2 separate regions of the Homo sapiens genome follow, and region 1 is linked to region 2. The links come from fine-mapping of genetic effects on gene expression. Tissue or cell type: lung. Region 2 holds a variant in brackets; the other region holds the start of a gene. All regions are shown on one strand. Distances are between the middles of the regions.

Region 1 (15,847 bases), 94 kb before region 2:
TAAAAATAAGGATGATACTAGGATTTGCTTCAAAAGGCTGCCTAGAGGATCAAAAGAGTTAACGCAATTGACGATTTAGTTTCATGCCTGGCATAGAGTGAATAATCAATTAATGGTACCCTTTATTATAAGTTATTGTGTGCCGTAAGTTCTTGCAAGCTAGTTTAAGGAAATAATATACCTGAAGATCGCTCACTTCTTCTATTTCCCTGAAGAAAGAACAATCTTATTCCGGATAATAAAGTATAACATGAAGATCTAATGTCTCTTGGGAAAGGTTTGGACAGAACTACCACTTTGAGAAGTCATTTTCCCTAATTGTGATATTTTTATTTGTTTTGTCATTTAATGTACTTATTTGCTCATTGATTTTTTAAAATTGTAGATTTGTTCTTTTTTTGCTCTAGATTATTTTGTTTTAAATTAGATACTGCAAAGTATTTAAAAGGATATCTGATGTCCATTTGTCCCTTTTGACTCTGTGGAAAAAGATAAGTAACATTTTTTTAAAAATTGACTACTTTTGTATTTTTGCTGATTTTATTTCTGAATTTATATTTAAAGCACATAGAAAAATCTAAACTATTATTCAGGTTCCCAAAATATAATCTGTTGTGCAGATTCAGGGGTTGTGGAATACATGTTAGAGTAGCAATTCTGTTGTTAGTGATACATAAACTAATTACTTCTATTAAAAAAAATTTAACAGGATATTGCAATCTTTCTGCTTTAAAGTTTTCTTTGATTAAATTTGCCATTACAAAGAAAAGAACCTACCAAATGCTGTATCGACTGACTTCTTTGAAAGAATGCTTTATGTTTGTCCTAACACTACAATTAGAGAAAAATATGTTATTCTGCTCTAGTTCCTGTCAAGAGTGGACAGAGGAGGAACAGAAAATTGACCTTTGCTTACCTTAAATAGTAATACTAAATTTTTCTTATGCATTCTATATTAAATCTTTCTGTGTAATCTTAAAGCGATGCTACATAATGCAATATGTCTATCAATTATGATTAGCCTTACTTCCTTTTGGTTTATGCTTTTGGACTGTTAAAAAAAGGACGTAGTAAGGGGCTCAGGCAGACACAAATATCACATAAACCTTTTGAACAATCAGATAAATAACTAAAAACGGGTTTATCTCCTTGTTATAAGTGAGCACAAGTGACTAGAGGCATAAGGAAGTAAAACAACTCCAACAGGCCGTCAGAAAGTCACAGGTAGAAATTTGATTGTAATTGATTTTGCTGTTAATTCAATACTAAAGAATAAACAGCCATTAGAGACTGAGTCTAAAATGGTAAATATGTTAACTATTATAAATTTCTTCTAAAATGTAACCGATTATTTTAATGTACATTTAAAGCAATTTTGTAAGGAAATGAAGAAGAGCCAATATTTTCCTAGATCAGAATATACTAGCTATAGTTCTATGACATTGCCTTACCTAATCTTAAAATTATAAGTTTCAAAATATCTTGGAAAGGAGAAGAGGGTGCAAAAGTTTGTATTGTAGAAGAATATTCAAGAAGATTATGACAGGGTCAGAGTCACAGCTGGAGTAAGTTTGAGCAACTTTGTCCTCTTGCGCTCTCTAGTCTAACACAAAAATAAAATGATGGATGTTCATATTAGATTATCATTAAAATACTTTTCTTGCTATTCAAGAACTAACTTTCCACTTGTATCAACTATCAATTTTCTATAATTCATGGTGAGAGGAAAGGAACGTTAATGTAGATTATTTCAAATTCCTTTATTTTTTAAAATTTAATCGTAAAAATGATTTGCTTTCCTGATTGTGTTTAGTGTTAGTCAATGTCCAGAGAGGCTATCAGATTATTTACTCCTAAGCAGGAGAAAGTTGGGCTGAGGTTAGAAAAAAAAGTCATGGATAATTTCAGAAAGTAAAGAGATCCCTTACCGAATATTAGAGTATATAGTTTATTTCAGTGAGCACTTTCATGAATGTTTGTGCATACAGATACAGCACACTTTCATTAAAGAAAATGCAGTCTACAAATATTAGTGCTCTTTAGTCAACTCGTTCAAGCTTCTCTTTCAATGAATTTCAAGAATTCTTTTCTCACAACATAACTTCATCCAAACCACTATCCTTGAAGTGTCCCAGTCATATCAGAAAATCATAGAATCTGAATTTGTGTTAAACCATAGCTTCTTTTTAGAAACACATGCCAGAAAGTTTATCTACATTTAAAATATAACTATAAATATCACTATTCTAGTCACTTTTAAAAGAATTGCAAAATGCTACTGCATTGCATTCAAATTAAATTCATCTGCCCGTCTCAGAAAGACAAAACGAGAAGAATAAAATAAGCAATTACAAACACAAATCCAAAGGTTTTTCATTCACACAGAAAAATATGTGAATTGCAAAGCTTGATTTTTTTAGTAGTTTGGGTTTTTAAAATTTGTTTTGAAGGTGGTCCATAAAAGTCAACACCTCAAACTTTAGAGATAGTATCGAGAAATGGCATACTTCATCAAAATATATTTATTCACATGATATTGAAGATTTTGTTTGAAATTACTTTTAATTTAGAACATCTGAAACAGTATCCTTAGAAATTGACATATATATTAAAATGCATAAATATTTATATATTATGTAAATATACTAGTAACAGTCTGAAACTTAATTTAGCCTGTATACATATACAGCACATACATGCAGTACTTATTAGCAATAGCTGCAAATGAAAAGGCAAATTAAAACATTGATGCGAATAATTCAGCAGTTCATTTTTTGCTAATTCTGTATCAATCATCTGAATACTATCACTCTCAATTTCCTATGTCAGTTTCCATTATAACTCATACTGTGTTTTTGAAAGCCAACCTTAAATTGAGAAATGTAACACCTCTGGAGAACAGTGGATTTTCTCTCTCTAAATTTTTTCTAAAATTCAAAGCCACATTTTCTAGAAGTGATATTACAAATAATCCACCTTGCCTATGGAACAAGTAGAATTCCTGTAAATAAGAATGTTTATCTTTATATGAAATCAGGCAACTTTCAATAAAACTATAGAGCTCATATAGTCTCATTTTCACTTTTGTAGATTAACGAATTACTAAATTTATTCAAGAATTTCTTCTGCAGTGGCAATATTTAATTCTCTATCCTGAAAAATTAAAATAGGCTATTTTCAACATCCATTTAAGAGAAAGAACACCAAGGACTGAGTTTCCAATCTGCCTACTTGAAGCTGCATCCTAGAGCTTCTTCCTCCTGTATCCCTGAAAGGAATATATTTCAACATCATCTGTCAAGTATAAAGGGAATTGGGGGAAATAAAACTTATTAGGTCTTAGGATGATACTACATGATTAGCTAATTTGATTAGTTGACACATTAATTCCAATATTTTCAATCATATTTACTATTGTGATGCATAAAAATTCAGCTCAGCTACCTTTCTATTCTAGAGTTTTTCTCTACAAAAGGAAATAACATCTTCCCTGTAATAGCCTTTCTAATTTCCATTTCATTTCTGAAAATAATAATACTAAGAATGTTGGTGACCACATAACTATAGAATAAAAAAGATAAAGAGACTCATAAGTATCCAAAGAATTATTCTTTTCACTTCAAAGAGAAAATATTTTACTATTTGTTTCTTCATAACAGTACATACTTTAGATCATTCGTTAAAGAAGAATACACAAAATAAAATTTTCACATTTGCCAGCTAGCCTCCTGCTATTCAACCCAGTATTTTATTTTGTTTTACCTTCATCTTGAATATGTTAACAATTTTTTTCACAAGCCTAATGTCAAATTTTAACAATCTAGGATTCCAGTTAAGTAAATATAATAAAATATATTCCATAGAACTGCTATGTTATGAAAGGCATATAAGAAATTCAACTCATTTGTGAAATAAATAAATAAATTCTCAATTTAAGGCGATGTAAGTAGACTTCCAAACTCTTTAAGAAGCATAATTAAGTAGCTATTTGGAGAGGTAGCACCACAAAAACATATTTTATACCGATTTATATACAGATACAGTATTAAAACATAAAGAAGAAGCTAGGTTCTGGGATGCATCCCTCAGTCTCCCCTGTGTAACGCTAAGGCTAATGAAACGACGCATGTAACTGATTTTCTGACAGAGGAACATCAGGTATGTTGGCCCAATAGTGGAACAGAAACAAAAAGCGCTTTACAAAAATTCCCAGAAAATACATAGATTAGAATGGAAAGGAACCTCAGGACTATTGAGGTTTCCTTCCCTGTGTCCTTGGGGGAACTACACATTAAGCTTTCTTCAACTGGGAACATGAAATTTGAAGTCAGTAGCATTAGAGGAGTCATGATTTGGATTGAGAGCACCCATTCTTTCTAATCCCTGTTCCATTTCATGACAGACTTCTAAGAAACTGTTAGGACCATTGCTATTGAAAATCCTGGGGTGACTCGCAGGAGAGAAAAAGCGAAGGAAAGTGGTCACATAAGCGCGTAGGCATGTGCACGTGTGTGAGGATGTGCAACGGTTATGTTTGCCTGAACGTATATGTACTTTCTTATTTTTCCTGAGACCTTAAAAAAAATCTGATTGCTGATTTTGTAATCCCTTGAAAGGATAGCTGAAACGGTTCACACTTCAAAGCTCTGGGAAGAGTTCTGGAACTGCAAAACTAGCAAAACTGCAAAATTGTCCCCGTGAGAGGGCAGTAGGGGGCCAAGCCCGGGTCTTGTCTCTCTGTCCATCCCAGAATGGCTCGGCCCTCTCAACCAACCTTCAGCCGGCTGGCTGCGCTGTGGACAGGGGCGGCGGAGGACACCGAGAGCGCGCAAAACAGCAGCATCAGTCGGTTCCAAGGAAACTCGGATCTCTGGGGCGTGGGCCGCTGCCAGGGGTTGACACTTGTGTTGTGCGAGGTGCGTGTGCCATTGGTAAAATGGCTTTCTCAGTTTTGGCTTCCCACAAAAGGAGCGGAAGGGGGAGCTGTCATGATTCCCAGTGCCCACAGAGCCCCCTCTCCTGGCCACAGCGCGCCAGCCACAACTGGTACCGAGTGTGCGCGCTCGTCTCTGTGCGTGTCTATTTGTATAACAGTTTGCAAGTGGCTTTCAATCTATCTGTCTGTATGACAGAGACAGAGGCGCCTGCGGAAAGTTCCCTCTCTCAAAAACGCCTTCAGTGTCCTGCTGTATCGCTGGCGCCTACGACGCTGTCATTGTCATCTCATCATTTTGCTTCCTTCCGGGTGATTTATGTACAATTCTGCGTGAGTGAGAAATGCGCGTCTACTGGAGTTGTTTTGTCTGTGACCTTACTTCTTTGAAGAGAGTAAGTGGTTGGAAGGGAAGGAGACCCTGAAAAGGAGTAATGTCCCCTCCAGATTGTAAAATATAATGGTTAAACGCCCAGTATCTCAATGTCTAGACTGAAATCCCTCTCTGCCACTTATACTAGCTGTGTGCCTTGGGCAAATCGTTAATCAATCCGTGCCTCAATTACTTCATTAGCAGAATGGGAAAGCAACAGCATCTAGCTCACAGAGTTGTGAAGATTAAATGAGTGAATATGTAAAACGCTTAGAACTGTGCCTGGCACGTTATTAGGTGCTATAGGTTAAATGCTATTAACATCTTCATCAGTTGCATCACAGTGTTAAATGGAAGGACCATCCTGACCACTTTCTCCACAGGAAAGCACTAGATCTTGATATGTGCCCACGCCCCAGAGCAAAGGCGAGACAGAATCCTAACCCTTTGACTCCGTGCAGTGCAGGACCAGCAGCCACCCAGACACCCCCCGCCCACGCAGACCCTGTTCGGTGAATCCCTCCCCAGCCGCCTGTTCTCTGTATCTGGGGCCACGCTCCGAATGTTGCAAGATGCAATGGCAAACCGCTAGCCCAAGAGAGCTGGCCCCTGCCTCTTCTGTCTGAAGAATGTGTTTGGGGGTTTTCCTACCTGCCCCAGGTTTTTGCCCTTCTTACTGCCGCCGAATGCCAGTCCTTGGTACATGCCCGCAGATCGATTGGCGGCCTGACCAGGCGTCTCCCCGCCCAGAGAGGACTTGATGGAGTTGAGTTTGGCCCGCGAACTGCCGATCTGTGAGCTCTCCACCATCAGCACCGCGGCCAGTAGGAGCAGGCAGCAGGACGAATCCTTGCTCCGCATCAACGCGGCCATCTCCCGGCGAGGGGGTCCCCAGGAAGACGCAAAGCCCGGAGGGGTGGGAATGCAAAGGGAGGGAGGACCCCAACACGGGGCCCCTCACTTGGGTCGCGGGGGCTTGCAGATTGTGTTCCCTCAACCCTTCCTGGTTCGGGGACCCAGGACCCTATGAACTCAGTCTCACGCCTCAGGACAGAAATTAGCGGAACCCAAGCGAGACCCGCTTCTCCACCAGGACAGGAAGTTCTGCAATAACTGGAAGCAATCAAATGCGAGGCGCTTTCTCGCCAAGGAGGCGTGACCCAAGGTGCAAGAAAACCCAGCCCTGTGGATCGCACCGCTTCCGTTCCTTCTTGCCCCGCACCTCCTTGGTCCCGCCGGGATCTCGGCGGTTTAACTCTCCTCTTAATTGATCAGGAGGCCCGCATCAGCTCCTTCTCCTTCAACTCAGTTGCTTTTCTCTCCTCTCTTTTCCTATCCTTTATGTGTCAAACTTTGCAGGACACAGTGCTCCTTTTCAAAGTTAGCAGGCGCTTTAGTAGGGGATCAGGAGACGTCCCCGGACCGAATCCTCGAGATCTGAAGAGAATCGAGGTCCCCCACACGCGCACTCACAGTTGCCCCGAAGCGTTGTCCCCTGACTCACAAGAGACAGCGAATCGCTGCCAGCGCAGCGATGCCTAGGGAGCGGACTTGCGCTACGCTCGCCGCGGGCTCCCGCTTTCTCTCTCTCTGCTCTCTCCCCAGTCCTCTTTGCTTTTTATAGCTTCCCACAGTGAGGACTTTTTTTTTTTTTTTACCTCCGCCCCCAATTCAAGAGTGACAAAGAGTGAAAATTTTTCTCTCACTCCCCACCGCTTCCGCCCCCCTCCTCTCTGCGTGCTGCTTCTGCTTCTGCGGCTTTCACTCCAGCTTTTCCTCCTCCTCATCCTCCCGCTCTGTCTCCACCCACAACTACTGGAAAAGGGGGATCTAGCTTTTCCATGAGGTGAATGGAACATAGGGGCTCCTAATTCCTGACAACAACTCCAGCGGTTGGAGGGGTCTTTGGAAACTGGCAGAGACCAAAGGTGGAAACGGAGTGGGGCAAGCTGACACCACTTGATCGCTGCCACCCTTTCTTAGATCTTCCCACCCATCTTCAGCCCCTGACTCCGCGAGGAGAGCTGGAAAAGCCCTATGGAAGCTTTAGAGAAGTGAGCATCTGCGCATCTGCTCATTAGTATTGTGTTCTTTGTGAGCTCACGTTTGGTTTTAGACTGTGCCTCCCAGGGAGTGTGTGAAGCTGGAGCCACATAGGTGCGCCAGGGGGTGGCCAATGATCCGGATAGAGGGTCTGGAAGGAAAGGGGCAGACCAAAGAGGGGAAAAGATGAGCCTGTTCGATTTGGGTCTTTTTAGTCTCCTCCTTCGGAACCCCGGGCCCCGCCGCACTCGTAGAATATGTCTATGTCTCTGAGGGACTGGGAAGAAGGGGATGCTCTGGGTACGCTCCAAGGGTTTGGACCTCACAGCTCGAATGAGCATCTTTACCATGCCAGGCAACTGCTCTTTTTGCGAATAGGAAATCCCAGATAGGAATGAACGGGGGCAGGGAGCCTTTGAGATCCTGTCTTCCTTGGCTTCCTGCCTTCTAGCCCCAGTGAATTACAAGAGAAGCCATTCCTGTCAGCCCCCGGGTCTCTCCAGGTCCAATTCCCTTCGGCCGAAGGTCGAAGGCTGCTCCGGGAACGACTGGGACGCGCTGGCGCTTGGGGGCGCCAGTGGCAGCCGTTCAGCGAGCCACGGAATTGCTGCAGGAGACAAGCGCTGAGTTCGGTGATGTCTGGTGGCCAAGTGCGAGACTTTCCAAGCAAAGCAAGGGATTGTTCGAAAGTTATTGCATTTCTGCTTCGCAGACACTAATGTCCAGGAGCAGAGAAATCCAAGCATTGAGCCACAACTTGAAGTTAGAAGGCAGCTAGCCGCCAGGGGAGGATACAAGCAGCATCCTCTTCAGAATTTTTGGACCTAGATTTCACAGCTTTCACACCTGATCCTGGCGCATGTCCATGAGTACGAATTAAACTTGTCGCTAAGTGAGAACGTTGGTGACTCTTATTTTCCCCCAAAACAACGCAGAGTTCTAAAGTGTGGATTTAGAGCTATTTTCTCCCAGACAGCTCCAGTTTTGCAAATTTCTCAGTCCTGACCTATGAGTCTGTCTGCCCTGAAATTCTTCATTTTCAGATTTTTTTTTTAATACACAAGGAAACGGGGATTAAAATATGCACCCTCTGGCATGTGTTCTTATCTTTTGAATTTCCTTTCTTTAAGGTAGAGATTTTTCACATTTTAGTGTGTGGGGTTTTTTTTCCACTTTTTAAAAATATGCCAGGAATAACAATATGGGTGACCCCTGAAGGACATCATACTAAGTGAACTCGACCAATCACAGAAAGACAAATCCACTTATAGGAGGTACCTAAAATAGTTAAATGCATAGAATCAAAGGTTGGAATGATGGTTACCAGGAATTGGAAGGAGAGGAGAATGGGGAGTTACTATATCAATGATCATAAAGTTTCAGTTAACTAAGATGAATAAACTCTAGAGATTTGTCATATGGTATTGTACCTATAGCCAACAATAATGCATTGTATTTTTAAAAACTTATTGAGAAGGTAGATCTCATGCTATATAGATATAAATTTTATATGTGTGTGACTTTATATACATGTATAATATATATATGTATTTATACATATAACATGATTGTAGTAAGAACATTTAACATCTATATATGCCCAGTAATAAATTTGTAAGTTTATAAAGTTAAGTGAGGCATTCTAGGCACTAATAAAAGGCAAGGAAATGGGTCGTTACTCTATAAATAAGTACTTAACGATTCCAAGCTTAGACTTTACAGAAGAGTATATCTTTTGCCTTCATTCTGATTTGCCAATCAGAAAGCATGACAGAAATTGAGAAACTTAAGTTAGGAGTATACTGGTTTAAATATTTTTGAAAAGTAGCTTAGAGCAAAAGGAAAAGATAGAAGCTAAACATGTAGGCAACAGATCACTCTACATTCACTTGGAAGGGTGTAGACTTTGACCATATGTTGAAGAACAAACCCAAATGAACCATGAGAAAATGTGAAGATGCTTTGCCTATTTCTGTCACTTCCTTCTTTCTTTACCTCTAAATAAAATAATATCCCACATACACAGGCCTAACTTTACTCACATGTACTGCTAAACAGAAAACATATATCAAGCACAACACATTTACTCTCAGCTCTGAGTACCATCCTAAACACATTATCTCAGAGGCTTATTCAAACCCCGCAAGTTCCAAAAGCAATTTTTTACAAATACAGTTAAATTAAAAGTCGACATAAAATCTACTTACACAAACATTCTTCCATATAGAACAAAATCAGACATATAGAATCAAAAGCTAAAACATACACAATTACGCCTTAGGCTAAAAAGCAGTCAAAAACTAATTTCATTCATGACCCAAATGCTTTGTGTAAATTTTTTTTGACAGACAGAAACAAACATACATGACCCATATGTTGACAAGTAGATATGCACACACAAAATCAACTAACTGTAAATAAACATAATCCTGTGGATTACTGTCATGGCCCCATATGTGTTTTTCCTGTGTGTGTTTTCCTAAGTGTAAAGACAAAAGCTTCATATTTTACTTGGGAAAGTAGATTTTTATGCCATTTGCAATAATATAATTAGAGAGTAGATATTTAAAAACAAGACTGTACAAAAGCAGGATGTACAACCTTCCTGTCCAGAAGAAAGTGCCTTAATGGACATTTTTTCCTTTGGCCATACATTCCCTCTTATCTTTGCTCCTCTAGCTGTGGGGCCATTTTGGTTCCATAGAAAAGCCACTACTTTCTCAGCAGTTGTTTCTGGATCCTGGATTCCTTCTGAATACTTAATCCCAAAGGTAAGTTAAGTATATAACTTGTTACCTTAGTCTTGTTTACTGAAGCTTACTAATTTTCATCCCATTACCTCTCTCCCTGCATTAGTGAATATTTCCTACAATAGCCTTTTTAGCAGTTGTTCATGCATTCCCCGTACGTGAAGCAAGTATGGGGCCCTGAGGACACAGAGGTGAATGAATGGGGGTCTTGCCTCTAAAGGGGCTTGGAGCTCTGTAGACACCTTAATATACTAAAATCTGCTCCTAGCCCCTCTCAGAAGTTGCTGCTGTGAGCCTTTATTCTCATCCACTGCTGAATTATGCCAGTCTCAGAGTTCAATCTGTCACAGGATAGCTGCAACTTGAATTCAAGCCAAGCTGGCTTGAATTCATGTGACTATGGGAATATAAGTGATCAGATATGTCCCCCAGAGTTCTTTTTTTCCTTCAGAATTAAATGCACATTTTAATGGTGTACATAGAGACAATACTTCTACATTTGTCGTTGAACCCAAAGAAATGACCCTAGTGATGGTCATGTTAGGTCAATAAGAACAGAATAGCAAACCTGGGAAGTAAGATTGTCTTTGGTAGGTCCCACAGGACCGCAAAGCATCTTGCACACACAGAATAGACATGAAAATCTTTAATGTATGGTTGAAACTTGATGGATGTTAAGGATCTGAAAAATAAGGTTATATGGGTTTTCCCTCTCCATAGTAAACCAAGCTACCTGGCTCTGTAGCCTAGTAATACTCATACTTTGAGAGTTTTATGTTTCTCCTCTGCCTAAGAACAACAGTCTTATGTGTTGCTGCAAATTAATTCTAAATACCTGGTAACAAATGTAAGCTTGCATTGATATTGTGAAAATTTTTTGTGTTTCTTGATGGGAATAATTTTCATACCAGATATGAAAAAATTGCATCTCCTATTTGATCCCTGCATTAGTTTCAGTTGTTGATGCTATCTTGATAAGGTCTCATGGACAACAGGACCAGCTAATAAAAAAGATCTCATCACCTACATTTGATTCACTAGCTATGCTTACAAAAACATGCACAAGTGAAATGGGTCAGAAGATTTCACAGTAAATCAATCTGAAACAATTGCTCAGCCAACGGCTTCTTTTTCGAACCTTAACGAGTTAGTCATCTTATCCATACTTCACCTGCCACTTAAATGAAAGAGGATTACTGAACAGATATTACCCCTTGAGCCTGAACCCAAACAATAAAAAAAATGCAAATAACATAATCTGAAACTCAGGCAGATAAAAACTTCTGCTGAGCCTTGTGCATATATGTGACCATAGATGGAGGTGGAATTAGAAAAAGTCATCAAATGTTTAATAAGAAACATTTTCCTTTACGATATAAAATTTTTGTTAGTTCTGTACAATGCATATCCTTTTTGGTAAGTTCTCACTGCTGAGTTCTGGCAGGTTTTTTCAAGATTCAGCTTTTGAATCAGTACTAAAGTACCAAGTAATACTTGGCAGTGAAAGAATCATATGTTTAATTCTTGAGTGAGGTTCAATTCCAAGGAATCTCATCTTGATGAGCAACAAAACAAACAACATTTAGATAATCTGGACCAGTGATTTTCAGACTCTGTTCCTTTCGGGTCTCTAGGGTTCTGCAGTGGTCTCAAAGTAAGTTGAGAACTGTGCTAATTTTTATAATATTTCAGAGGAGAGGTGTCCAGCTCTTGGATCAAAGATAAATTTTAAGTGCCTGTTTTTGTTATTGTTTTATTGGACAAAATACTCTGTGAGCCGTCAACCCACCAAATACATGATGGATTGATTTCTACCCTGTTAGTATTACAGACAATTTCCAAAATGAACATTACTCAAATGGGGAAACTATTAAAAATATGGCAATTTATTTAGTCAGAAATGATTTGGTCATTTAAAGTAGGGAACATTAAAAATGAAAAGGCAGGGTAGCTAATCCATTCATTGTACAATGTGTTTATTCCTGATCAATTATCTGAACCTATGATTAATGAATATGGCAAAACTTTAACTATACTCTTACCACACATAAAATAAACTGTGGTGCAGACTAAAAATAATGGAAAAACTACTTGCAAATAATAAAGACATAGATTCTCAAGAGGCAACTCAAAAATCTGTCTTTGAAACATAACTGGGCTTGGTAACAGAAAATGAAAAATGTGCTTAGTTTATCTTTGGAAGATTCATTTGTAATAGATCCTACTTTTTGATGCTCTAGGTATAAATCATAATACCTAGGCTCAAAAATAGTTTGGGATATAAGAAAGTCAAGACACTATGCTGCAGTCAGCTTAAGGAATTTTATAGGTAACTGGCTTAGAATATACAGCAATAATAAAAGTAATAATAATAGTCAGATTTATTGAATGCCTTACATGTGCCAGGTTTGTTGAACACTTTACATATAGTGTCTCTTATTTGTATCCCACAATTCATCCCTTTAAGACAATGAATGTACAGTCCAATATTAAAATAATACTGAGCAAAGAGTAGCTTGCAGCACAGTGTGTCTCCATTTGTAGTAACGAATGCCCAGTTATGGCAATAATGTGGAAGGCACACAAGAAAAGGGGAACCCATCAGAAGAAATTGGAGGTGCCATTTCACCCTTGTAGCAGGCCCCAACACAGATTCCTCTGAAGGAGCTAAAATAAGTCATTTGGTAAACGGTTGCAAAGAACACCAAAAATATAAGTACATGACTACATGTATTGAAGCTTTGCCTAATATAGTAAAACTCTTGGGCCTTAAAAATCATATAGCAGAGAACTTAAAAAGGCCCTCTGCTACAGATGGCATATTAGATTTCTAGGGATTCCATAACAAAATGATACAGATTTAGTGGCTGAAACAACAGAAATGCATTTCCTTACCATTTAGGAGGCCACAAGTCTAAGATCGAGGTGTTGGTAGGTTTGGGCTCCTCTGAGGCTGCTCTCCTTGTCTCACAGATCACCACTTTCTCACCGTGTCCTCCTGTGGTCATCCCTACGTCTGTGTTCAAATTTCCTCTTCTTATAAAGAAACCAGTCATATTGGATTAGGACCTACCCTAATTTCATTTTAATTTAATTGCCTCTTTAAAGAACTCATCTCCAAATGTGGTTACATTTTGAAGTAGTAGGACTTAGGGCTTCAACATATGAACTTGGCAGCAGGGCGTGGGGCAAAATTCAGCTCATAACAGATAGATTTATACATGTAGTTGCATATTAAAACACTTGGGAAAAGAGTAACATTTCTGTACACAAGACATACAGCAGTTTCTCAGAGTTCCTAAACTCAAAGGAGAACTGTGTTATATGTTTATTTTGAAAACATTATTTAAATATTTTTATTACCATTTTATTTCTGGATCTGTGTTAATGATATTCATTTTTTCACCTTCTCTTTTTGTGTGACTTATGGCTAAATTAGAAATCAGCCAACTGAGTCTGACTGTGATTGTCAATATTCCACTGGGGCCCTGAAAAGGAAAAGAGAGAATGCAAGCAATTTGCCAAGAAGATAAAGTCATTTCTACATTTTTTATAAATGCCTGGTTAATGAAAGATGGAAACAATAAAACATATCAGTACATGATAGAAAAGTGAAATCATGGTAGATCAAAGGAAAAGGAAGCAGCAAACAAAACTACAGTGATCTAGCAATCAGCAAGTTGTTCTGTTACTAACTTAATTTGTCCATTTATTTAATTTGATTTGTTTAATTTACTCAGAAAGTTAATAGTTCCTTGGAATCACAGTACCTTTAATTAATTCAAGGCAGTGCTAAATATGTGAAAACAGAGGGGATATCTAATTTCATTGAAACTGGTAATGAAATCACTTTTAATATAAGTGCACTTGACCACTTAGTCTTTAAGTTATTAAGAAATCTGATTTGGAATAAGCTCAAATTTACTTTAGCTTTTTGTTGTTTTTTTCTGAAATTTATAAAATGTATTTTGGTTGTTATTGTCAAGAATGTATGTGAACATTTGTATATATCAAAGAACAATCAATATCTCCAAGAACATAACAGCTGTTTATATGTTACAGTTGAAATTGTTGGGTTAGCCTTGTCCTCCAATGCCAATCAATGTTGTATTTTTAAATTAATAATAAAATGAAACTCTCAAACCTTTGATCAATTTGCCTTTTATATATCAAAATGTATTGTATAAATATGCTCAGTATTAACAGAAGTACTGAAAGTTTAAAACCATCTTTTTGTTTTATAATATTCAATGTACCTCACCCCACCACTTAACACTGGAGGTAGCTACCACTGAGGCCAGGAATATATGGACTATAGCTATAAACTGGGGCTCTTTTTAACATGAAAAGGTAAGCTAATTTCCAGCCTTCTAAATACAACTTCCAAATTCACTAAATTACTTCGTGTTCCTCCTATATGTTAGCATAATTTTAGAAGGTAATTCATTAGAAAAGCCCCCAGCTGCAAGTTCTAACCAAAAGTTATACATGTTATAGTCCAAACTCTTCATTCTCTTTAGCCAAGTGTAGATACTGCCTAAGATGGCTGATTTTAAATTAATTTGTATGATGATATCTGTCACTCACTTGTGAAACACTTCCTGAATATAGCTGACACAATCATACCCAATTTTCTGTTTCAGGGACTATTTAATGTTAAAAATGTCTCTAAGGAAATCATTCTAAGGAATGCCTCTAAGTAAATCTTTATATGTGGGGGATGGAAAAGACAACCCATCATGGTATTATTCTCTGACAACAAAAGAATTCCTGTTAATGGTTAGTAATGGTTATTATTGTTTGTTTTAAGTAGTGATCTTATAGTGATTATTAGTCGGAAATACTGAGAGGTCCAAGTTCATGCAGCAGAGGGCAGTAATGGACACTTGTCATGGTAAGAGAGATGAGCCAGAGATTATTACAAAGTAATTTTTCTGGAGAAAAGTGTTTAATGGCCTTTCCTATACCAGTGTTATTAAATAGAGGAGAACTGATAAATAAATGCATCTATTCCTCTCATGAAAAGTTTGCAACACTCTTCAAATATTAGATTGACTGAACTAAAAAAACATTCAGAAGGTTTTCTCTTATCTAACTTCATAGAAAAGGAACGATTTTCCTATGCCAAGGCATATGCAGATGTTGCCCATGTAGCATTGTAAAAGCTCTTCCAAACTACTCAGAAACAGAGGCAGGTAGGCAACTTTGTAAATGGTCTCATGACTGTGCAGAATGCATTGGAAATTAACAGCACCTTTTTCATCTTACTTACTACCACTTTATTATCTGTCTTTCTCTCACTACCTGAAAAAAATGCAACAAAATCCAAGGACTTCCATCTTTACCTTCCTTTAGTTGCTGTACTGCCTACTACGCTAACGATGTTAGCAATGTTTTGTCTTTGTTCTTTCAAAAATTACTTCAGCAAGCTGTTTCTTTCTTCAATCACATTATCCCGAATTTACACCTTGTTCCACCGCTTGAAATAAACCATCAAATAAAGCAGACCCAAAACAATGGTAGGAGGTGAGGATGTTATTCAAAATTTTCATAGGTAAAAATTTGAAGGTAGAATCTGGGAATACATGATGGCATAGTTTTTCTAACTCATGCGGTGCTATGTAAAACCAGAAAAAGAGATGAGGATAACAATTCCCCAAAATGCACATACGAGCACACACCACACACACACACACACACACACACACACACACACACACACATCTAGAGTAAAATTAGGTGACAAGG
Region 2 (15,847 bases):
GCCCAGGCTGGAGTGCTGTGGTGTGATCTCGGCTCACTGCAAGCTCCGCCTCCCAGATTCACGCCGTTCTTCTGCCTCAGTCTCCCAAGTAGCTGGGACTACAGGCGCCCGCCACCACGCCCAGCTAATCTTTTTGTATTTTTAGTAGAGACGGGGTTTCACCGTGTTAGCCAGGATGGTCTCAATCTCCTGACCTCGTGATCCGCCTGCCTGGGCCCCGCAAAGTGCTGGGATTACAGCCGTGAGCCACCGCGCCCGGCCCACTTGTCATCTTTCTTCTGGAAAGGAACTGGCCTGTTTATATGCCTATTCTTTCATGATTCAAACCCTGCTATGTTGCTAATCATGGTTGAGTTCCCTGACCAACTTTCTCTCTCATTAACTCTCTTCCCATTTGCTTTTATCCAAGACCAGGAGCTCCATGTTTATCAAATCAGTATGGTAACATATCTCTAGTGGTTCTTACAAAAATGGTTTTCACACTTTTCATCCTAGACAATACTTAATTTAAATAAATCATTTATAATGATAGCTCAGCAAAAAGGCGCAAGTCTTTTGACCTAAAAGGAATATATTTTTCCTAATATCTGGCTTACTGCCACTAATTTTGTCCTTATTAAACCAACTTGGTATGGAAATCTTCCCCTAAAATTTTTTGTAGTCCAGTCTTAAGCAAAGAATATATTCATATATCTTCTGGCAATTATGTAGAAATAATCTTTAATGTTTGATTTCTGTATATTGATTAAAAAACTTTACTTCCTCCTTATAGTGGGAAATTGTTTATAGTAATTATTTTTAAACCTATTTTCCCATGTTTCTTTTACAGAGTGACATGAAAGGAAAACTATTATTATACACTTACATTTTCATATATTTCTCCAGATAACCAGTCATGTTCCACTCTAGACCTAATTAGGCATAGTAGTGATTAAATCATAAGAAAAAGGAAATTCCTGTGTTCGAAATGTACCAAGGTAGATATTATAATAGACAGTATTTAAGCAACAATGCCCCCGCTAAAATATTTTTCTTTTCCCTCCATTGTATCCCCAATAGTTGCTAATTTCTTCTGTTTTTTTCTTGATCTATACTCCCTGATTTTCCATTCCTTTTCATTCTTCAGTCATCAACCCAATACAGCCTCTGCTCCCTCACACTTGAGACTCTTACAAGCGCCTCCCTTAACTGTTATCCTTCCTTCTTTCTCTTCCATTTTTAGTTATCTGGCAATGCCTCTGGATTAGTCTTTCAAATGCAGTGCTCTCCTGAGTGACTAATTATTGCCTCCAAGACAAATTATAATGTGATAACTAGTGATGTGAAGCCCTCTACATCTACCTATCACACATCTTTCCTGGTTTATTTTGCATTCTTTCTTAAGATCTACCAAGTTCCCAGCTCTGTGTTTAACACCTAGAAAGCACTGAATATATATCTGTGAATGAATGAATGAATGAATGAATGAATGAATGAATGAAAGTGTTCTGTTTCTTACATACTTTATCCATTCTACCAGCAACATCTTTACATTTCTTCTATATAGCCAAATCCTAAGCTGCGTATGGGCCTAATGTTGTAAAATTTATAGTGTTCTGTCTACAATGATGTCTCCTTTCTATGAACCCATGAGCTTCACTTCTTCTTTGGGAAATAAATTCCAGTAGATAAAAGACAGAAGTGATATCCACTAAATTTATTTAGCCTGGAATAATATAATATGTATTTAGCTGTTACAATACAAGCAACTAAAATCTGAAATCTGTTATAGGCTCAGAGTTATAGTAACATCACTGATGACCCAAATATCTCTTTTATGAGTCTATGACTCACCCTCTTGCCAAAAACTTTGGCCAAAAAATACAGAGAAAAAAATCGTTCGAAATTGCTTTCATCAAAAATGTAAATTATCTGCCTGGATTTGTGGGCATTGCAGCTTTCAAATAAAAGTGTGTAGGGATATAAGAAGAATGAGTTCAAAAGAATCTTTAGATGTGTGAAGAAATGTATACTCTATTCTTTTCCCCCACCCCCAAGGAAATAGTATGCAGCCAAATCTTTTTTTGTGGATAGACTGAGGGGCATGTAAGGGTTTTTTTGTGGATAGACTGGGGATCAGACATTTTAAGTTTGCTTGGGTTTTAAGTGAGCCATTCAACTCCTGGAGTGTCTCATTTTATAAAGATAATTATATCCTGCTCTTCACATTGAGCCTGGAAGGAGAGACACTTTACCTTCTGACCTGTGCCTCTCCGAGGTGTTCTGATGTTTGAATGGGGATGGGAATGCAAACTTACTCCAGCTTTCATGCTATACCATACAAAATAACTCTCCTCTCTATCAGGATTTAGAAAAATCTAACTTTTAAGCATAACAAACCCCCTTTTCCCGGTTATATAGTATAGGAATGACCAGGATGCCGTATGAGACATAGAGTAGTGGACACTTTCTTCCCACTCACAGCCATCTGAAGCATCGTTCAATATTATAACTAGCGTCACATCACCACTTGGATCAAAAGCCTCACATAGCTTCTCATTTGGGACATCACAGAAAGACTTTCTGTTTTTTTTTGTTTGTTTGTTTGTTTTTTTGAGACAGAGTCTTGCTCTGTCACCCAGGCTGCAGTGCAGTGGTGCGATCTCGGCTCACTGCAAGCTCTGCCTCCCGGGTTCAGGTCATTCTCCTGTCTCAGCCTCCTGAGTAGCTGGGAGTACAGGCGCCCACCACCACGCCTGGCTAATTTTTTGTATTTTTAGTAGAGACAGGTTTTCACCATGTTAGCCAGGATGGTCTTGATCTCCTGACCTCGTGATCCACCTGCCTTGGCCTCCCAAAGTGCTGGAATTACAGGCGTGAGCCACTGTGCCCGGCCACAGAAAGACTTCTTATAAGGTCAAATATTCAACTGTTCACAATGTGAATTCCGACCTACCTGTTCAGTCTCATCTCTCACTGCTTTCTCAGTTCATTGTACCAGACTATTTGCATTGCCCCAGGCACTGCATGTGTTTTATGACTGAGTTTTTCCCATACCATTTCCTCTAAGAATAGTGTCTTTTTCTTGACTGTTTTTGAGCCATTAAAGTGCTAAGCATCTTTCAAGTTTCAACCTAATTATCAAATCCTTTGCAAGGCCTTCTTTAATTCTGTTGTCTAAGTAATCACTCTTCCTCTACCTCCTGATATTTTACAAATACTTCTATTATGAAATCATGAGAAATACAATATTTTCTTTGGCCCACAGCAATTTGTAGCCTGTTTGTTCAAAGAGCGTGAGGCCACATCCTAACTGTTACAATGGCTCTAAAAGTTATAGGGTAAAGTCACTGACGTTTTGAAGCAAATATACCATTAGCACTAAATTTTCTTTCACTATTCTTTTTAAACTACTGATAGATTTGCATGACATAAAATTACCATGCCAAAATAACGCTAAATAATACTGAGCTTGTTGCAATTGTGACCTAAACTCATCACATCTATCTCTTTCTTATACTGCCACATCCATGTAGCCTGATTCTATCTCCTAAATTCAGTGGCTCAACCAGCCTTAAATGATATCTATGATATTATATGAGTATTATGAGATCACAAGGATGAATAAATATATTCACTGTTCATGTAGTTCATAGACAATCCAGGAAAAGAATATACATCTAATCCAATACGGTAAGTGCAATCATTGAATCAGAGAGTCCAGAGAGGGGAATGGTTAATTCTCTCTGATTTTGAAGATTAGGTAATGGTAAAAAATGAGAGTCAGGGAATATTTCACAGAAGGTAAGGTTCGAACTGGGAAATTTTCCAGGTGGCAATAGGATAAAAAAACATCCAAGTAGAAGGAATATCATGTACAAGGCTGCAGAGTTTAGTAGCAGCATGGGCTGTTATTCAGTGCCAGGGAAGCTTAGGAAGCAAGAATGGCACAGCAAGATGTAAGGCTGAAGGCATAGGCTGGAGCCACATCACAAGGGCCTGTTCACCAAGCCAAGGAATTCAGACTTTAACTTTCGATGCTATAGATATCAATCTAATGGTTCTAGGCAGGGGAGTTACATACTTGGCATTGTATTTGGATGATATTGAGGCCAGAGGAAGAGACACCAACCAGGAGGCCTTGACAGTAATCTAGAAAAAAATTGAAGAGTATCAAAATTTGAATAGAAACAAAGGGGAAGAGAGAAAGGAAAAACGTACTCATTTAAAGGTAGCAGTACAAGTTCTTAGAATTGGGCTGTTTGTGGGTAGTGCCAGGATGGCCAAGAGAAATCTAGCTTTTTAGTTCAAATGTCTGGTGGTGGCAGAAAAAGACCCTACATTCAGCAATGGACAAGCTGTGTTTGAGAAATCCGTATTCACCTTTGATGTGCTCATGCTGATCCCCCAAACGGCTTATTTTTAAAGCCATGCTGGGGGTGGGGTTAGAAATGATAAGAAGGAGTAGAAGGAAACAAGTCCACATAATCCCTTCATTCATTTGTTCTGATTCCAACATTCAAGCTTTTGGAATGATAGGTTTTGAAACCACCAAAATAAACATCTAATATAAAGATAAGGAATAGTTTGCCTTTTATAATCCTGAACATGCTTCTTTCTGGCTCCCAAATGGAAGTCTGTCCAGTCAGTGCTCCTTCTGTTGAAGGTGGAATAGGGAAGCTGCTATTTGTTAAATGTTAAATCTTACATAAATTGTGCCTTAATTTCTATAATAAACCTCCACAAATTGGTATTGTTATTCCAGTTTTACAGATGAGGAACCCAAATCTCAGAAAAGTTTGTAGACATTCTCATAGTCCCCCATCTGGTAAGCAGTAGAGACTAGGTGTAAATCTACATCTGTCTGATTTCAAAGTTCATGCTTCTTTCATTATACGATGTCAGATGTTGCGTATTTAAAGAATATTTTGGCTCCAGAAATCAGGATTAGGAAAAGTTGATTATGAGAAAACTAAAGAGCCACCCTGTCCCTTAAGCTATAATATACTCTAAAAATGATTCCTCTACAGAAGCATTTCTGTCAAGTGTTCACACTCAATTTCAGAAATGATCACACCTATCTTATTTCATTGAAGAAATCCTGATAATCTGCTGAAGCTAAACAAAAAAAAACTACAAATCAAATGATAAATGATCAATCAGAAAAATGTAATTGTTATGAAAAACCTCTTGCAAATTTTTATGAAGTTACATCCACCAGTTGAGAAGTACTCCACACACATTTTTTTAATTGGACTGCCAATCAGCCAATACTAACTTCCAGTGCTCCTCAACTCTGGCAATTCTCAGCCCTAAAAGAACTGGGATGACTAAAGAGGACATATTTCTCTTGGAATCCCTGTATTAAGAAATCAAAATGCCATTTAAATCAAGAATAAACCTACTTAATTGATAGATTACTATATTCCATGCCTTAATCAGGATTCTCTGTTCATACTAATTCTATCCAGCATAGCACATTGATAACTCACCTTTATTTCTGGGAAACTTCAAAGCAGCCTTCACATACATGGGAAGACGTGAGGGGTAAAATAACTGTTTGGACAAACGTTTGCATTCCCTTAATAGTTCTAACCTCACTACAAAACATATGTCAAAATTTTAAAGAGAACAGAAACTTTTAATGCTTTGTGCAATGTACACAGTTCCTGAGCTTTGATGTTTCTATTTCTGCCCTTTATTTGTACAAAATTGTCTGGTTAAAAAAAATCTTTTATGTCTCATTACTGACCTGTCAAACATTATTTTAACTTAAAGAATAGGTGATGCCTTGCAGTAAACCTTTAAAAGCCTCTTGTTTAAAAACAATATACCATTATACTGTACATATTTAATATGGTTATTTTTTATTACAAGGAACATGTCACTGAGAGAAACTTTAAACATAGGATTTTACATTGGAATGAATGTAGCCACATAAGAGTTCAGCCGCTGCTGTCTCTTGGGCTGATGCTGAGTGCCTGGTGTCTCAGGAAGTTCAGAGCCTTTGAAAACCTTAGGGAAGTCAAAGCCATCTCCACTCCCTTTCAGGCCTCACATTAACACCTCAAATTATTCTCTTTACACCATTTTATAACTTTCACAAATTTCAAGTAATCATTTAACTCCTGAATCATTTTTTTTTCTTCAGAATGAATTAAACATTTCTTTCAGGTACCATTTCTTTTGACTGCATAAAAATTACTCCCTCTCCACCAACACCACCAACTCCTACATTTTTTTTTCACTGTTTGGCAAGCATTGACTTGATTTCCCTTCCTTTCCCCCCAACTCCCCTTGCCAGTTTGGTACCCCTCCGGAACAGACTGTTTGAAGTGTTTCCCAACAGCCTCATTGAGGAGGAGGTAACAATGCACAGAAATGCTGTGTGACTTAGTGAGCTTCAAAGATCTGGACATCAGAGGGAAGGAAGTCGGGGATCTGCATAAAAGAGGTTTTCTTCATGATTACACTGAAAGGAATTGTTCTGGAGGAAGTGATACATGTTCCCATTCCTGGGGGTAGGGTTATACTGAAAGGCAGAAGGTAGCAGGAGATACTATAATTGGCCTCCCTTACAAGTGTTTAAAAGCCCCTGCATTATCATCAATGGCACTTTTTCCATTTATATCCTGCAATTGTTAGTCATTGTTTCTGAAAACACTGTAGTATTAGCCTTGTATTTTTTGCCATTATGCGAATTACTTCAAATGATGAGCAACCTGTAGACAGTTTTCAAAGTCAGTCTTGTATTATACCACAGAGGTATCCAATAGCGTCTGCTGAGATGATGCTGAATGAAGGTACTTGCTAAACAACTCTAAGTTTTTGAATGAAAGTGCAGTGATTTTTATTAGAAATCACTTTTCTTATTTTATTTTTAGGATTCTGAATAGAATATTCAAAAAGAGAATGTTTAATAACTGTGCCTATATTTGAGTCATTTTCTCTAGAAGACTTACTGGCTAAATTTCCCTAATTTTCTAACTGTCACAGTTCTTAAGATCTCAGGATAATATTCTCTTACACCCTCTAACTTTCTAACTTTGATAACACACATTTCCCAAAAAGAGAAATGTTAAATAAAATCAGGGTCATTGTCTGTGCTTGATCAGATCTGACAACCCCTTTAACTTCCAGCACCATGGAAGAAGCTTCCAAATCATTCTTGAATATGGTTTACTATTTAATTTTTGAAAATTTCATTTTGAATCTATATTTTTAAAGTTATTGCATTTTTTTTCAGATGAATGCTACAGTGCAAAGAATACAGTTTGAGAAATTTTAAAACCTGGGTTCTACTCCAGAATCTATTGGGTTACCTTGACCTCTCTTCCCTCAGGTCTCTCTTTTGTGAAATGAGAAGATTAGACTAAGTTTCTGAGATCTCATCAATCTAGGTTTAACATTTCAAAAATAGAAAAATAAGTAAATCCATTAAGTGAAGAACTAACCTCAGAGATGAGAGTAAAATCTAACATATATGCATATTATTGAAAATTTCTGAGGTTAGGCATTGAGTTATTCATTCACTAGTTCATTCATTAATTCACTTATTCTTTCATTCTTCTGTCATTTTTTGGATATCAGTCTACTTAAGCTCTGAGTCATAAATGTTATTTCTATTCCCAAAGAATTCACAGTGTTCTAATGAATCATCAGTCTCAGATTTTTTGCTTATATTCACTCCTTTGCCTTAGGTACTACAAATATATTTTTAAGCAATAGTGTTTTTTTTTTTTACTTCCTACTTGGTAAAAGAGGTTTTGATAAATAAAAACTGACTGATAAAGTAACATGAATTTTTAATATTTGAGACGCTAATTACACCCCTGAATTTTTTTTTATTTTTTATTTTTTAGAGAGACAGTCTCACTACGTTGTTGCCCAGGCTAATCTCGAACTTCTAGCTTCAAGCAATCCTCCCACCTCAGCATCCCAAAGCACTGGGATTATAAGTGTGAGCGACCATACCTAGCC[C/T]AATTAGTTAAATTTATGATTATTAAGTGTCAACTGGTTCTGACAAGGTGACTTATTATTCTTGCATTTTTCTGTTAGGCCTTTTTTTCCCCACCATAGGAAATTGTTTAGGATGTACTTCACATGCTAACAAATTTGATTATCTCTTGCTCCTTAATTATTGGGATTTAATTTAATCCATATTAATTTCAATTCCTCTCATGTTTATTTATTTCTCTTTCTCTAAATCTAGATACATTTTATAATACATCAAAATACTTGTTTCATTTTATTTTTAAATAAAATGGAGACAATATAGCATGTCATAAAATCCCCAGACAAGAACTCACTGACAATGGGAAGGTAGCAGTTAATGAGTTCAATCATCTTCTCTAAGTGACTGTAAGTGAAGCTGTTCTACTTTATACCTATCTTGGATGTGCTTTTGGGCAACAAAAGGAAATTGCTCAGAATGTAAAAACAGAAGTTAGTTTTATGAAAATAGCCGCAAGTTGATAGAATTGAAGATTTTAAGAAAAACTAGAGGAAAGTAGAATGTAGTATAAAAAACAGAGAACATTAATGACAATCATGGTTTCAATAGGTTTGAAAGATAACAGAAAAGATGTGCTAATATAGTGGTGACCTGTGAGTGGATAATCAGACTATCAGCAAATTGATAAAGCTGTACACAAAAACCAGAAGGTCTAAGAGCATGAAGACAACCCTCTCCACAGAGCCTGGTTGTTTCTGTTGTGGCGCTGTTGGTGTTGTTTGTATCCAGTACAGTGCACAAGCATAACTCCTGACATAATCAAAGCACAGTTTTGTTATTGTGTCCTGTGTCTCTTTAAAATATATTCAGTGGTGGTACCAAGAAATTGTCAGAACTAATAAACAAGTTCAGTAAAGTGGTTGGTTACAAAATCAACACACCAAAATCAGTTGCATTTCTATGTATTAACTAGAAACTATCTTAAATTTTTTAAAATATCATTTCCAATAGTTACCAAAAAATAAGAATACCTTGGAATAAACTTAACCAAGGAGCTGAAAGATCTCTACACCGAAAGCTATAAAACATTGATGAAGAAATTGAAGGAGATAAAAATAAGTGGAATGATATCCCATCTTCATGGATCAGAAGAATTAATATTGGTAAGAGGACCATACTACCCAAAGCAATCTCTAACATTCAATGTTACCCCTAAACCAGTAAAACTCTTAGAATAAAACAAAGGGGAAAAGCTTGTTGACATCTGTCTTGGCAATTATTTTTTGAATACGACACCAAAAGCATAGGCAACAAAAGCAAAAATAAACAAGCGGGACTCCATCAAACTAAAAACGCTCTGCACAGCAAATGAAATAATCAATAAAATGAAAAAAGCAACCTGCAGAATGGGAGGAAATATTTGCAAACCTTATATCTGATAAGAAGTTAATACCCAAAATATACAAGGAATTCATACAACTCAATAACACAGTAACAAATAAAACTATTTTTTTAAATGAGTAAAGAACTTGAGTGGATATTTTTCCAAAGGACACATATAAATGGCCAACAGGTACATGGGAAAATGCAAATTAACGCTACAAAAACTTACCAGCTGACACCTCTTAGAATGACTATTATCAAAAAGACAAGCAATAACAAGTGTTGGTAAAAACACAGAGAAATTCTTGTGCACTGTTGGTGGGAGTGTTTTTCATTTAATTATAAAAGACATTATAGAGGATCCTCAAAAATTTAACATAGAACTACCATAAGGTCCAGCAATCCTACTTCTGGGTATATACCCTAAAAAATAAAATCAGTATCTCAAAAAGATACCTGCACTCCTATGTTCATTGCAGCGTTATTAACAGTAACCAAGAGCCTACAATAGAAGTTATTTAGGCATAGATTTAATTATTTAATTATATATCCTCCTTGAGTCTTTCTCAGATCTGCAAAGCAGAGTTAATATAACCTCACTCTACTCCCAGAGCCCTTTATTTTTCCACTACAACATTTAACAGAGGTTGATTTTGTATTAACAGTTTTTTGGGCTTATGTCTCTCTTATGTTTCTTTTAGTCTCCATGCATGAACTAAAGTTTCCTAAAGTTCAGAAGATGTGGGCCATAAGTCAGGAAAATCAACTGTGTTTTATCAATTTTTTCCAGTACATTTAAGTGAATAAATCTCTTGCGTACTTGTTCAATGTAAGACTTTACTAGGTGGATTAGTCAGGGTGGGGTAGGTTACAGCACTGTAACAACAAAATCTCCAAATTTCTATAGTTTGACACACACAAGTTTATACATCACTCATACTATGTATATAACATAGATCAATTTAGATCTCTGTACCATCAGTGACTCAAGACACAGGATGACAAAGAACTTATCATCTGGAATATTGTTGGTGGCTTTTACGGAGGAAGAAAGAGTCTGAATCATACATGAGTTTTGTATTGCCTCAATTCAAAAGTTTCATGTAGGGATTGCTATTAAGGTGTTCTGGTGCTACTAAATCCTAAAATTCTACATTATAAAAAAAACAGTAACCAAGAAGTGAAAGCAACGTAAGTGCTCATCCATTTCCAATGAACCTTGAGGGCATTATGCTAAGTCAAATAAGTCAGACAGAGAAAGACAAATACTATGATCTCATATGCAGAATGTAAAAAAGTAAAACTCATAGAAATACAGAGTACAATGGTAATTGCCAGTGGCTGAGGCTGGGGAAAATGAGAAGATGCTGGACAAAGATACAAACTTTCAGTTATGAAAACGAAGTTATGGAGATCTCATGTACAGCATGATAACTATACTTAACAATACTATAGTCTATCCTTGAAATTTGCTAAAAGAGAACCTAAATGTTCTCACCACAAAGAAAAAGGGTAACTATGTGAGGTGACATATGTGTTAACAAACTTGATTGTCATAAGCATTTCACTATATATATATACATAGTGAAATATATACATACACACATATATATTAGAGAGAGAGACACATACACATATACGTCTCAAATCATCATGTTGTATACTTTATACAATTTTGTCAGTTATACCTCATTAATGCTGGGGGAATAAATAAACAAACAAACACTAATCTCTTCAATCAAAAAAATAAAAATAAAATGAATTTAATAGTGTTGATCTTCTCCTGACCCTGACGAGAACAAAAGAAATCATACATATTTTTAATGATGATGTTCAGTTAATAACATTCTTCAGGTCGATTTGCAAACAACTTCAATTTGGTAAGTAATTCCAAATCCCATGTAATATAAATCTAAACTTGGCAAAGTATTAAATATTCCTTTCTTCTCAGCTGGGTAGAACCTGTGAATTCTGCCATATAATGTGTCATTATTTTTTTCTTTGCTTTTCCCTTTTCTCCACCCACACTCACATGGACCCTCATTCCTGCCTCCTAAGAAATTGTTGTCCACTCCTCACAGACTCTCACTTTCAGAGTCCATCACCCTCACCTCTCAGGAAGAGTTAGAACCGCTCCTCTCTTGCATGGGTATTCCACATCTGGTTTAACGAGATCAGTTTACCCCACACTCAATAGAAGCATAGTTACTATCCAAACATAATGTGTTTCTATGCCTTTGTCTCTCTCTCCTTCTCTCTCTTTATCTCTATCTCTATTTCTGTTTCAGTAAGGCATGAATTAGGCATCTTCTAATGATGCCTTTTAATCATAGGGAACATATTTGAAGCATTTGAATGATCCCATGGAATTACTTCAATAGACTTCAGGTGAAGAAGGTAACACTCTAACCTGTCCTCCTTTGGGATTAAAGGGGACTGACAACTAGCAGCAGCACTCTGAAATGTCTTATGGTATAGCTCATGACAAAACTACAGACTCAGTCTATGCAGCATTATTATCATTCCCTGATGTTTTCTGTTCAGGGTTCATGCTCTGCGCCAGAAGCTTCATGGATGTATCCTGCACAGGCACAAGCGGCAGGTCCAATATATTACTAAGACTGACGTTTCTCCTAGATCCTCTCTTGAATCCGGAGCTGCCCAAAGCATCCATGTCCTGGCCAGCACCTTTGTATCTGTTTATACCCTCTCCTCTGTCTTTGGCTCTTTCAAATAATTCTACTTGGCTACTGGTAAGCCTCTCTGAAGTAACTGATGCATGTTTCCTAATGCTTAGACCCTTTATTTTTATGCACTATGATTCTAGGGTATTAAAGCTCTGCTTTTCCCACATAAAATTTCTTAAAAACCCTTCATATTATCAGAAAAATTTAAATTGTATGTTATTTAACAATATTCAATTGTTAACTTACTCATTTACCATAGATTCACAGAATTATAAGCACAATTATATAACAGTAACATTACAAAAGAATGGTGGTATATGTGCACAGTGTATGTACTTGTATGTGTATAAATGTGTGTATATCTATCGAAAATCAGATTATATTTATTATCCATCAAATAATATTAAAAAGTAAACATTAAAAAATGCAAAAATAACACTAATTACAACAATTACAACCTTCTTTAAACTTAAATTTTATTTTATCTGATACCAAGTATTTTATCTGATACCATTTATCTTTATTTTATCTGATACTTTATTTTATCTGATACATTTAAGGCCATCCCAGTTGATTAATTGGTTAAATTACACAAAATGTATTTTTTTATTTTTCTACTTTAACCCTCATGTTTTAGTTATGTTTGTTGGAAAAAATGTCTAATTTAATATAGTTGAATAATGCTTGACTTTAACAGGAACAACTAGTCTATTTGTGTTTAAAATAGTAATGGATATATTTGAAATTAAATTTAAGATTGTTCTTTGTGACAACTGTACTATTTTCTTTTCTTTCTTTCTTTCTTTCTTTTTCTTTTTTGGCGAGAGTGTGTCACTCTGTTGCCCAGGCTGGAGAGCAGGAGAGCAGTGGCATGATCTTGGCTCACTGCGACCTCTGCTTCCAGGGTCAAGCAATCCTCCCACCTCAGCCTTCCGAGTAGCTGGGACTATAAGTGCCCCACCATGCCCAGCTAATTTTTGTATTTTTGGGTAGAAACAGGGTTTCACCATGTTGGCCAGGCTGGTCTCAAACTCCTGACCTCAAATGATCTACCTGCCTCGGCCTCCAAAAGTGCTGGGATTATAGGTGTGAGCCACTGTGTCTGGCCTCCTATTTTCTTACTTTGTCATGAACTATACTATAACAGTTCATATATATATATATATATATATATATATATATATATATATATATATATATATTTGGTGATGCTTGTGTTAGCCCACTTGCCAACCACACAAAGAAGAAAAATGGTAATTATCAGCATGATCAGACTCCAGCACAGCATGGTGGATAATCCAGTGTACTTGGGAGTTTTCACTTTAAGCTCTGCCCACCTAGAATCACTGGGGCTCATAGTGATGGCCTAGAAAACACTCAAGAAGTCTTCTCTGATTTCAAATATACTCTATGATAAGAAGATTATTCCTATTGCCAAATCTCTGGAGGCCTTTCTGTTTACCAAGACTGATACTTGTGTTCAGAGCCAGAGGATCTTGCATAGAAATAGGATGCACAGCTGAATTTATCATTTCAGCTGAAATCCAATATTATCTACTTACAATTAGTTCCCTCTCAGGTATCTTTAAGGTAGTTTTTAAATATTATTAAGAGATTTCCAAGAGTTAAATATATAACATTTAGAGGAAACATACAAAATATGAATCACTGCTATGAAGAGCATACGTGAGGTAATGCTTTTGTTCTTCACAAATCTATGAGACACACACTACTATTACTTTCATTATAAAGAGAAGGGTAACTTACACAGAGAGACTAAATGAATTGTCGCCATTCACAATCTGGCTATGGTCACAGTGGGGGCTTGGAATTGCCTGGGTTGGTAGCAAAGACAGTGTATTTAGCCACGAGGCAATTTTGAAAAGTTGATTAGTTATGTTCTTCAATCAGATCTATATTTATTTGTGTTTTTATACCTTGTCATTTCATTTTGGATTGGTGGCATTATATTTTCCTTTATATTATTTGTTGTAATAAATTTCCATTTATGTGCATTTATTCTATAAATCAGTATCAATTATGAATAAAGCTTCATATAACTTAAGAAAAAGAAATGTCTTCTTTTTTACATCCTATTTTATACTCCTCAAGGGTTTTAAAGCTATCTAACTGGTTCTGGGTCATCTATTTGGAAATTTCTTCTTCATATCATTTAACTTTGAGGTCTGCCCACCTGGAATTTCTGGGACTCATAGTGATGGTCTGGAAGACACTCAAGAGGCAGAGACATGTTAGAAATCCACATCTATTGTGCCTGTATTACTTAGTCAAAAATATGAATTTTAACATCCAGTTACAAAGTCACGAACAGGGCTTCTGTCCTTGAAAGTCTGCTCTTTTGGATCAGTCAGTTTACACGTTGGGAACAGTGTTTATTAATGGTTGTAGACCAAGGTTGGCAAACTCAAGATTTTTTAACAGAGAACATGAATAAATGGCCCTGGCCAGGTGGGAACTGCAGTATACCAGAGAAAATGTGCCTGTTCAACGGGATAGATGTCACTTGGCTATTGTGAGGGCAGTGAGATCAGAGTTAAAAATGTTGACAATCCATGTTTTCATGTCAAGTCTCCATATTTTTTAATGTGGGCTGTTAATGTTTTAAGAACTTTGTTCAAACTGCACACTAAAAGATTAACGGGCTAGATTTATATAAAAGTATATCAGTTTGTGATTTTTACAACAGGCAGTGTCCTCATCTGAGTTCAAGGGTCATTCACATACCTGTGCTTGCTGACAAGGAGCTCAGGTGAGAGTAGGGAAAGCTGATCAACTGAAACTCACTCTGCCTGAAAATAGAGCTAAGAGTAGAAACATGGTATGCTCTTCATGTACAAATAATATAAACAGGGAACTCAGTGCTAATATGGGAGAGTGGGATGGTGGATAAATATACTTTTGTTGTTCATAATGTGAGCTATTTTTTACCTTTCTTGTGCATTTACAAACAACCAGATGAATAAAACAAGTATAGCAGGTTCCCTTTAATCACTCTAATCCTGGACTAAGCACACTCCTCTTCCTGCTTTGCTTAAATTGTTCAAGTGTTGGTGGTGATATGTGTTGAAGGTCATTATCATTGTGCAGTTGCATTTGCATCCTAAATTTAAAACAATTTTTCAGATGTTTTGAACCAATAGGACTTTGGCTGCTGAATCTTAGATGCCATCTCAAGAACCTCAATTAAAATATTATATTCTGCACACACACAGACCTCCACATCCACTACCCCATCCCCGCAAAACACAGATGGGAAAAATTGATATTTAAAACAATGCTACTTGGATTGTAGGTACAGGGGGCTCATTTTAACTAGTCTATCTACTTTTATGTCTCACAACTTTTTATGAAAAAATATTGAAAATGCAGGAAAGACTTTGTTATAACAAATAAGTATCAATATAATGAGAACATTAGATTATTGAACATAAGTAATTTTTTAATTTATAAACTTTTAGTCATTTCATCATGAAAATTGCATTGCATATCTAATGTTTAGTCAATAGCCTAAAACAAATGTTTACAGTTTGATAGACTAACTTGACTTCCGATGGATTTTGGTTTACTATTAACTGTGTAGGTTCAAGAATGGTTTAATAAATATATGAGGCAATGCATACATTAATTAGCTCCATTATAATAAATATATACAATATTTGTCAGTTAAAAACATACATATTTAAAATAATGATTTAATGACATTTTTCAAGGGTATTATTTACCATCCAGCTAACTTATCATTGCTTAAGTCCAATATACTCCATAGTAGGAAATGGGGATTCAAACATATTTATCAAATAAAGAAGTGAACTAAAGGCCAAAT

What was found.
Region 1: it holds the start of DKK2, and the variant in region 2 is fine-mapped to the expression of DKK2 in lung (TOPMed, PIP above 0.99).

What each region holds. Positions count from the first base shown.
Region 1 is chr4:107,029,413-107,045,259 of GRCh38, forward strand. DKK2 (dickkopf Wnt signaling pathway inhibitor 2) reads right to left here and starts at 6,901. Exons shown (of 4, transcript NM_014421.3): 1 at 5,958-6,901. The coding sequence starts at 6,179.
Region 2 is chr4:107,123,879-107,139,725 of GRCh38, forward strand. It overlaps the pseudogene VN1R22P and the pseudogene VN1R23P. Among named protein-coding and RNA genes, the nearest start is that of DKK2, 95 kb to the left of the region's middle. The variant C/T (reference allele first, on the strand shown) is at 7,960.